Linked DNA regions of Homo sapiens: region 1 is linked to region 2. Evidence: fine-mapped expression QTL. A gene starts in region 2. The other region holds a variant in brackets. All regions are shown on one strand. Distances are from middle to middle. Region 1 overlaps RDX (radixin). Region 2 holds the start of RDX (radixin).

The links.
Region 1: its variant is fine-mapped to the expression of RDX in whole blood (TOPMed, PIP 0.98).

What each region holds. Positions count from the first base shown.
Region 1 is chr11:110,228,822-110,234,352 of GRCh38, reverse strand. It overlaps RDX (radixin), which reads left to right. Exons shown (of 14, transcript NM_002906.4): 13 at 874-1,116; 14 at 2,320-4,912. The coding sequence ends at 2,484. Among named protein-coding and RNA genes, the nearest start is that of RDX, 65 kb to the left of the region's middle. The variant TC/C (reference allele first, on the strand shown) is at 3,407.
Region 2 is chr11:110,294,448-110,299,447 of GRCh38, reverse strand. RDX (radixin) reads left to right here and starts at 2,834. Exons shown (of 14, transcript NM_002906.4): 1 at 2,834-2,981. RefSeq lists silencers at 2,452-3,251, 3,302-3,351, 3,362-3,461, 3,592-3,651 and an enhancer at 2,865-3,737.

The DNA of each region.
Region 1 (5,531 bases), 65 kb after region 2:
TTGCTGTAAGTCTCTTTTAATGGAGGGCAGTTTCTCTTTTTATTATTTTGATTTATTGAAGGGACCTACAGAATGTCTCACCTCCTATATTTGTTTAGTTACTTCCTTGTGTCATTGACCTTATCCTTTAACTCCAGTATTTCCTTTGAACCAGAAGTTAGATCTAGAACCTGGGGAATTCAAATTAAATGTTTTGACTACAGTGCATCAAAGGTGAGACTTCCATATAATTGAACATCTAAACTGGAGTACTTTTGAGAAAAAGGGGGTATTGTTCATAATTACACCAGGACAACAGTGTAACAGGACTTTTCCAGGTAAACCAAGATAATATGATCACCCAAATAATTGGTGATGTTAGATATTTCAGGTTGTATCATATCAGAAGACACTTAATATCTAGTTAACTCACCATTAGTATTTTTTAGTGATCATTGGATTTGAGTAACGACAGTCTCATTCCTCCGTTATTCGGTTACATTTTCCCCTTGTGGCTCAAATAAAATCTATTGGGTGTGAGATTCTTAGGCATTATATGAATATCTATTTCTCATCAACTATTTGCACAACAGTTTTAGCAAACAATTGATAATCCTTGCCAGAATTAATAGTTCTTTTTTTGCATGTATGCTTGTTTTTCTTTTAATCTGTCACTTTGAAGCTCACAGAGTAATTCTAATAGGGTTTGCATAATAATGTTTTTGATTTTCTCTTTTACCTGTTGACATTCTTTTATGAAAATAGAGGTTTCATAAATAGGGCCTATTTTCATTACCTTGAAATACAGTTTCTATTAAAAAGGGAGTATAACTTGATTGTTTTGATTATTAATTTTTGAAGTAAGTTGCTCATAAACGTATTTTTAATGTTCAGGCTTTTGCAGCCCAGGAAGACTTGGAAAAGACCAAAGAAGAGTTAAAAACTGTGATGTCTGCCCCCCCTCCACCTCCACCACCACCAGTCATTCCTCCAACAGAAAACGAACATGATGAACACGATGAGAATAATGCTGAAGCTAGTGCTGAATTATCAAATGAAGGGGTAATGAACCATAGAAGCGAGGAAGAACGTGTAACCGAAACACAGAAAAATGAGCGTGTTAAGAAGCAACTTCAGGTATTTAAAATTTGCAGTTGTATGTGCATTTGAAATATAGTTTGCATTTTCCCCATCTTAGACAAACTTAGTTAAAAAGAATATAGAAGTTTTAATACTGGCTGCCCTTGTGATTGGTTTGTGGGTGTTTGGCCTATAGTCATGTTATTTCATTTCTTCCGTTGTGTGAACCCATTAGCAAATACCTGTTAGCTTTGTATAATCAGACCTTAACTAGTGAGTTATTTAATTACAGCTTGACCCATTTTAAAAGGTAGAAAGTATTCTAATGTCATGTTGAAAAACGTGAATTTAGTTTTTGATCAGTAATATGTACATTGAGGGCCAGGCGCAGTGGCTCACACCTGTAATCCCAGCACTCTGGGAGGCCGAGGCAGGTGGACTGCCTGAGGCCAGGAGTTCAAGACCAGCCTGGCCAACATGGTGAAACTCTGCCTCTACCAAAAATACAAAAATTAGCCGGGTATGGTGGTATGAGCCTGTAATCCCAGTTACTTGGGAGGCTGAGGTATTGCTTGAACCTGGGAGGTGGAGGTTGCAGTGAGCCGAGATCATGCCACTGCACTTCAGCCTGGACAATAGTAAGTGACTCTGTCTCAAAAAAATAAAATAAAATAAAATGTACATTGGAAAGAATGATAGTTAATATACTATGTTTAAGACATTACATAATCTTAATTATTTGTTGAGATTTTATATTGGCAAAAGGTCAGTATATTACATGGACATAACTAGGTCAAAGTAGAGGATTTTAATATTATGAGCTTTCTTTTTTCCCAATAAGTTATCTAATATTTTAATTGTTAAAATCTTTAAATATTAAAAGAAAATGAGGTGATAGTTACAATAAATGTATTAAGACTTTTGGAGAAGGCTTCCCTTGAGGTATAGATTTTAAATCTCATAGTAATATTAGTCTGTAATGGCTACATTGAACTTTTTAGCCATTTCAAGTATTAGATTAGAAAGTTAAGGAAATTTAGAATAATGTACAAAATACCATGGTTGATAAATGTGGAAAGGCCATGTGTATTCCTCCCTTACCACTGCCACCACTATTACTAAAACAAACTTATACCTAAAGAAAAAGGTTTCACAGTGGAAATGATTTGGTATATGTATTTTTGCATCTTAAAGCCATTTTCATAAATTTTTTTAAATCTAAGAAAAAAATAATAGTTGTACTTTTTATTTTTTAAATAGGCATTAAGTTCAGAATTAGCCCAAGCCAGAGATGAAACCAAGAAAACACAAAATGATGTTCTTCATGCTGAGAATGTTAAAGCAGGCCGTGATAAGTACAAGACTCTGCGACAGATTCGACAAGGCAATACAAAGCAGCGTATCGATGAGTTTGAAGCAATGTGAGAGCTGTTATTTTGCATATATGTTCTTCATAAGCTGAACCACCAACAGAGAAAAGCAGGCCTTTGCAGATATGATGGAATGCATCCCACCTTGCCAAAGCACTTACACCAGTTTGACTGTGCTAGCTAAAAGACAAATTTAAGGGGAGCTCTTCAACATTAAGGCAGTATGATATCATGCTTGGTTTTCTTTTTTCTTTTGGTCCAGGGAATGGAGAATGGTGTTCCATTGCCTCTTTTCACATTTTTTTTCTTTTTCTTTTTTTTTTCTGTTGAAGATTAACACTAATTATCACGTCTGACAAATGTGTATGTGTGGTTTCAGTTCTGTGTACATTTTAAAGGATAATGGTGAACATTTTAATGGGTTTCCCTTGCCCTTTCCATATTTAACCTATTTCCACATTCTCTCTCACTCACATTTTCTCAGTGTGCCCTTCTCTTATCTGCCATGTCCATAGCCATAATTCCACCATCATACAGATCAGGCAGTGTTTAAAATGATGGTAGGTAGCACAGTGGACAGTCTTTGATCATCATGTAGAATATGGCTATGAATCAGGAAAGAGATTAGAACATTTAATAATGTATGTACAGCTGGTGCTTAGTTTTTTTTTAATCTAAATTTAATTACCTTATTGGATATTTGATATTTGGTTATTTAATCACAGTCATCTTTAACAGCTTACACTGATTGGTGTTTTATCTCCTGTGATCCTTTGATGGCTTTTTTTGCCTACCATTTCACAGAGGTTTAGACAGCAGTAGTAGCTCCCTAGGAGAGTTTACTGATGAAACAGCCTCTGCAAGATTTTAAAAGTTTTGTTCTTTTATAGACTGATTTAGAAAAACAAATGATTAGTTAAAAAAAGAAAATATACATTTGTTGGTAACTAATGTTATTTTTTAAAACCTGGACCTTT[TC/C]TGGAAGGGCAGCATATAAAAACATCAGTCCCGAGGAGGGGACAACAATACTACCTCACTACTACATCTGTGATGACTGGTTGTTCAAACACAATGGAGTGTGTAAGGTATATGTTTTATAATTCATAACCATAGCCTCGATCATCAAGAAATACTTTCGAAATTTCATTTTCCTTCAGAATATCTTAAGAGTGCTAAATTTTTAACTGCCTTTTTGTCGAGTCAAACTGTGGGATTCTGATTTGTATTAAAATTGTAAGCTCCTCACTGGTATACTATCATCCTGGAGGGGTGTTGTATGGCTGAGCAAGAGAGAGAGAGAATGAGAGAGAGACTGTGTGTGTGTGTGTGTGTGTGTGTGTGTGTACTCTGTGTGTGTATGAGAGAGAGAAATGCTAACCTTGTAGCATGTGAAGAATGTCTGTACCTTGATACGATAGTTACATAATCAGTATATTTGGTTTCTAGATCACTGTGCTTATTTTGTTTCAATCTCTGACTAAAAATACTTAAATTTGGTTTGTTAATTCTTATTTTAGAAATTATAATTTTAGTTTATATTAATTTCGGTTATAGCTTACTGAAGAAATCTTTCCAGTTAGAAGGAGGTTCTAATATTCACATGTTCTAATACTTTGTTTATTGTAAAACAGCTAAATTTGGAGATACGTAAAGCCTTGTTTTCTCTGTGTGGTTCAGCTACTTTCCATTTGGTATTACACAGTCAAATTTACATTTATCTATTAAAATTGCCATTTTATTAAACATTTTCATGCACAGTAGATTCAAGTTGTGTCTGAAAATATCTCTTGTGCTTTTTTGATTTTGCTGACTTTAAAAGGATTAATCTGGGCAGACATTATGTAAAAGAAAGGTTGCGTTTAATATATTTTTTGAACTTTGTAGGACAAAACATAGCTGGTTAACCTTGAAGTGACTGTTGTACCATGGTTGTGCACATGCTTCAGAATCCTATGGAAGAGAATATTCCTACTTGCAGTACATCAAAGGAATGGATGGTGGACCCTACTATTCATGTTTTGAGACATAAATGTTCACTTTAAAGCAATTGCATAATAGATAAAAACCTGAACTTTCATTGGATTTTTGTTAATTTTCCTCATTTTGAATTATGTGCACTACCATAGCTACATCAGTTTGATACAGTATTGAAAAATTATCAGTTATATTTTGCTGTTTATGATCTATTTGTAGATTAGGATTAAAATGGATTTAATCCATTTTTAAGGCTGTGTGAATTTTTCTAAACAAGAACCATTTGCAATATGGATTTCTTAGAGATTAAACCAATTATAACTTATTAGCAGTCGCGAGCACATGTTCATATAGTCAATGTAAAAATACACTAATGAGTATTTGGTAAATCCCAGTAGGCTTTTACCATTAGCATAATTTTGTGTTGTACAATTAAGTTACAATTACATCTCTAATTTTGGATAATATTCATTGGTTAACAATAAAGTGACAAAAGCTCATGCCTTCAAGGTCCACTGTTGTTATTTAACATGGATTTTTTGTATGTTTCTTGAAAATTACAATCTTTATCACAGCCATGAATCACCACAACTTAAAAGTAAGAAGTAGATAGGAAATAATTTTAAATCCTCATAGATCTACTCTTTCCCCGATACCTCTTTGGTATGGAAGTAATAGTGATTAATTCTGTGGAAAAGTTAAATTATTAAATTAAATTGACTTTGTTGACAACAAAACGTAATTTAGGGTTTCCAGTCATTGCCTTTATTGTATAGTGGTTAGTTTCTTTTTCCTGAGGAAGATACAGTTTCTTGTCATTGATTGATCTCACTATTAACATTTCAACATTCTTTAAAGAACTGTATGCTAAGTATATTTATGTAAGTACATGTTCTTATTTTGAAGCTGTATTATAGAACAGTTACTATAAATCTAGAAATTGCCTTTTTCAAGTCTTCTTACTAATTTTTAACTTAAATAAGTGATAAATCTATAAAAATAGTAAAAGCTAGATTTTTTTGTTGATAGTAATATTTAACTGTCACTTTATTATTTCTGTTCTCAAGGACACATAGTGATTTTTTTACTCTGATCCTGTCAGAAAATGGAATTTTAAATAATATTTTG
Region 2 (5,000 bases):
CATAAAATGAGCAGTGAGGATGACCAGAGATCACCATCATTGCCATCTTGGTTTTGGTAGATTTTGGCTGGCTTCTTTACTGCAACTTGTTTTATCAGCAAGGTCTTTATGACCTGTATCTTGTGCTGACCTCCTATCTCATCCTGTGACTTACAATGCCAAACCTCCTGGGAATGCAGCCCAGCAGGTCTAAGCCTTATTTTACCCAGCCCCTATTCAAGATGGAGTCACTCTGTGGTCAACGCCTTTGACAATCACAGCTCACTGCAGCCTCAAATTCCTGGGCTCAAGGGATTCTTCTGACTCTTCAGCCTCCTGAATAGCTAGGACTACAGACATGCCACCATGCCTGGCTAATTTTTATAATTTTTTTTGTAGCGATGGGGTTTCACTATTTTGATCAGGCTGGTCTTGAAAATCCTGGGCTCAAGCGACCTTCCCGCCCCAGCCTCCCAAAGTGTTGGGATTACTGGTGTGAGCTTCAGCACTGGCCAGTTATGAACATTCTTTTTGTTTTTTTGCTTTGTTTTTTTTTGAGAGGGAGTCTCGCTCTGTTGCCAGGCTGAAGTGCAGTGGCATGATCTCGGCTCACTGCAATCTCTGCCTCCCGGGTTCAAGTCATTCTCCTGCCTCAGCCTCCCAAGTAGCTGGGATTACAGGCGTGTGCCACCACACCCAGCTGAGGTTTGTATTTTCAGTAGAGACGGGGTTTCACCATGTTGGCCAGGATAGTCTCGGTCTCCTGACCTCATGCTCTGCCCGCCTCAGCCTCCCAGGAAGTGCGGGGATTACAGGCATGAGCCACCATGCCCTGCCATGAAAGTTCTTAGGGGTTGAATCACAGTGCCAAATAGCTTTATAAAGAGATTATTTCAGTTTACACTCCCACTCACCATGTCTGAGAGTACCCTTTTTATCTCACCAGCCTTGACTGTTATCTTTCACTTAAATATTTACTAATAGGATACCCAACTAAAATGTTGCAATTTTTGGTCTGTTTGCTGTTGCAGAAGATAGGATAAAATCAAGGCTTTTGGAGTCAAACATATATTTGGGTTTGGTCACTGCTCTGCCACTTCCTAGTTTTGTTACATTGGGGAAATTACTTACCTCTTTTTAAGCTGTCTTATTCATCGATTTTTTTTAAAGGGTCAATAATAGTATTTATCCCAGAGGGTTTTTGTAACCATTAAAAGAGACAGTCATGTAAAAGAATTTCACACCAGTGTCTGGCACCTGACCAACAACAGTGAATCCTTCACTTTCAGTTGCAAAAGTGTGTTATATAATTTCATTTGATTAGTGTACTATGTAGGAATTTACATAATACTTTTTTTTCTTACCTACTTCATGGGAAGTATTACGTAATACTTTGACTATGCCTGCAACCTGATGTGGTAGGCTGAACAATAACCAGGATAATTCTTGCACCCTAGGGAGAGGTAAGGAGTGATCTTTTGGTGGTCCCTAAGAACCACAAGAACCTATTTGGTCGCAAGTCACACACCTGGTTCCCATCCTTGAGGAATTTGCTATCTAAAGGCCCTTGAGTTTAACCCTTGAGTCTCTTGGGGGCTTTTAATTGTTCGGAGAGGTCTCAAAGGGCAATAGTGGAAACTCACTGAAGAGGCAGGCTAGTGAAAGTGATTTGCAGATATTTCCTGGAAAAGCTACTGTCTCACCTAAGGTAAATGCTAAGGCAGGAAGTATAGGAGTTATTTGTCCTATAAAAGTAAGTATACTCAGGCGTTTTGTTATTTGAATCTAAAGTTTGTTCACAAAAGATAAGCTAAAAAAAGTATTGCAAACAGGGCAAGCCAGGCGAATCTGATTTTGTGCGCTTGCTGTTTGTATACTCATAGCAAGTTTTGCTCCCTGAATCATCCCAGCAGACAATACTGAGGGGACTCAGCATGGATTAGATGACAGAAGACTGATCCAGAAGTCAGGAGCTTCCTGTCTCATCCCAGCCACTAACTAAAGTGAGTGGGCTAGACTTAGTCTTAAGATCGAATGCCTAACTTTCTCTAAATCTAGAATTATGTAGGTTTGGCGGCTCTTTGGGGCCCTACTTCCAACTTTTTCTTGCTAACCAACTCCTTCCAACTGCCAAAGCATGTCGTTGGTAATAAAAAATTATCACACATCCTTGCTTGGATTAAAATTTGCACTCCTGATTTGGGGTCTTATCCATTGAGGTTTTGGTGAAGTTTGAAAATTGTCGCTGAAAAATTAAGTTTTTCTAGTTGGCTAAAACCTGCCAAAATAATGTAAACGTTCTTTGTTGCAAATCTAAATTCCGCTCAGGTAGGCCCTTTTCTCCTTCCCAGTCCAGGATCTTCAAACCTAACAGCCAAGTCTCACGCTTCATTTGGTCCCCGGCTCCCTCTGGGAAGAATTCCTCCTCTGGGGGCGACGGCAACGCCCTCAGTGAGTTTGCTGGCACCAGCGGGAGTTTCAAGTTTCCACTCGTTGGGGAGGCGGCGGGCACACTCCGAGCTTTGGGCTGGGCGGCTCCGCTTCCCTCGACCGCAGGTTTAGCTGGAGCCCAGCGCTCTCTGGAAGGGCTCGACCCTCCGGCGCATTCGCCCTATTTCCCTGGGCGCTCCCGAGCCCGCAGCCACCCACCTCGCGTTGGCCGGCCCCAGACCGCGACCCCCGGCCACGCCCGGAGCCAGGCCTGCGGCTGCGAGCCTGCGGGAGGGGCGGGGCGGGGGCGGCCCCCAGCGGCGGCGTTGGCGCTCAGTCCGCGGCGCGAGGACGGCCGGCCGGCAGGGGGAGGCGGGGGGGCGCCGGGCAGCCCCGCCTTTTCCCGCGGAGGCGCCGAGCGGCCATATTGCGGAGCTGTCTGCGGTGGCGGCGGCGCCTCTCGTCTCCCGCGGGCCAGCGCTCGCACCACCGCTTCTCCCTCCCTGTCGCAGCCGCGCCGCCGCGCAGCGCCCCAGCCACACGCCGGCGGGCAGAAGCCGCCCGCTCTCCGGGTAAGGCGCGGCGCCCTCCCTTCCCCCACTCCCCGCTCCCGGTTCCTCCGGAGACGCTAAGGTGGCGGCGCGAAGTTGCGGGGCCCGTGCTGCCCGGCCGTGGCGCCGCCGCCAGGGCTTGGCGCGCCTCCGCTCGCGCCCAGCTGGCCGAGGCGCCACTGTGGTAACGGCCCGGCCGGCCAGGCTCCTCCCGGGGCTGGTAGGGGCCGCGAGGCCCTGCCCGAGTCGTGGCTGAGCCGCGGCCCGAACGTGCCTGGCCGGGCCAAAGTCGACCTTCGCCGCCGCGGGATTCTCCTTTCCTCGGGGCGCGGAGTCTGCCTTCAGCGCCGGTGTCGGACCCCCAGCGCCCTGGGGACGGTGGGCTCCCGCTGCCTGGACTGGGCCCCGGGCCCGGGCTGGCATGGTCCCAAGGGTTGTTTGAAAATCCAGATATTCAGCGTAGGTAGAATTCGATTTTACATTTATTAGAACTTGTTCCCCGGCCTCCAGTTTGAAAGGAGGGGTGTTAAATTACTAGAGAGCGTGCGTTCCGCCCCAGTGGCAAAGGGGATGTTGCATGACAGGCTTTGGGGCGCCAGTCGCTCCCGCCGCTCGCACCCGCCAGGCCAGGGCCGCGGTTCCCGGCCGCAGCTCTACCTGCTGCTGTTGCAGCTCTCGGAGCCCTGTAACTTTCTCGGGCCCTTGAGGCCGCTCAGTTTTAGTGTCTCAGACCCCACCAGACAAGTTCAGTACATGATATCCCTCTTTTCCTTTAAAGGATTCTAAACTCAATTCCCGGACTAACTTTGAAAGGGGGCAGTGCATTTTTGTTTTTTTTTTTTTTTCAGTTTAAACAGACTACATCACTTCCTAGACAGATGTCATGTTTCTTCAGACATTCCCAATATTTGGTGGTTTTTTTTTTTCCTTAAAGAGTAGTTACTAGGTTGGAAATGTGTTAAAAGTCAACTTCATAAAAATATATTTTAAAATACATTTGAGATTTTGGTGGAAGACACGTTGCTGAGGAACTCGATGGCATTCTTGTGGCACTAAGACTGGCAGGATGTAAATATAAAAGTCTAAGATAATAAGGGTTTATTTGATAAACGAGTACTTTGACATAGACATTGTAATCTATTGTTTAAGGAGCATACTTCTTTTTTTTTTTTTTTTTTTAGAACACTAAATACTCTTTTATATGACTGATGGAGCTAAGAAGGAACAATTACCCCGTTCATGTTGCTGGATAAATAATGGCTTGATCCATTTGCCAAAACAGCATCACTGGATTTGAGAAAGGAGACTAATATTCAGGATTGCAGTTTTTTATTTTCAGAATTTCTTTGCTTTCCCCAGTGTGCTTTATCTTCCAGAGATTAATAATACTTTCCTTCAAATACAGCAACATGTAAAACACTCCTTTTGAAGTTAATCGTATGCTGTAAAGACGATTGCAGTGACTTTCTTTGCTTAATCGCTTTTTTATATATGATGGAATTTAATAAACAGTTGGTATATTATTAGCAAGGAATGAATAGACATTGGCATTCTTTACAGTTTTATTTAAATGAGACAGAATTTGATTGTGGCATTGAAAAAACGTTGAGTTCTTGACCTTAGGAATCACATACAATGTTTTGTTCACTCCTGTATCCCCACACATGGAAGAGTATGTAGGAGAGTCTCAGAAGTAGCTGTAGAATAGATGTAATTAATTTGGGTGTAGGGAAAATACGTTGAGTCTGTCCTTTTGTTTTTTTTTTTGAAATTGTGATTAATTAACTGAAAGTCAAATTGATTACTTTCCTTTTGTTGGTAAGAAATGACAGACTTTGCTGTTGTTTCCCTCCCTTGCTGAGTCTCATTAGTCTCCGGGATGGGGAACGCGTTGTCTTTTGTTTATTGGTTCACTGTTCCCAAAAGCAGAATTGGATTTTTTTTTTAAGTCGATAAATTTTTACTCAAGGAATTCCATGTTGTGATTTCTTCCACTGTCCATCAAGGTCACTTTAGATCCTCTAAAGAGCTAGAGTCAAA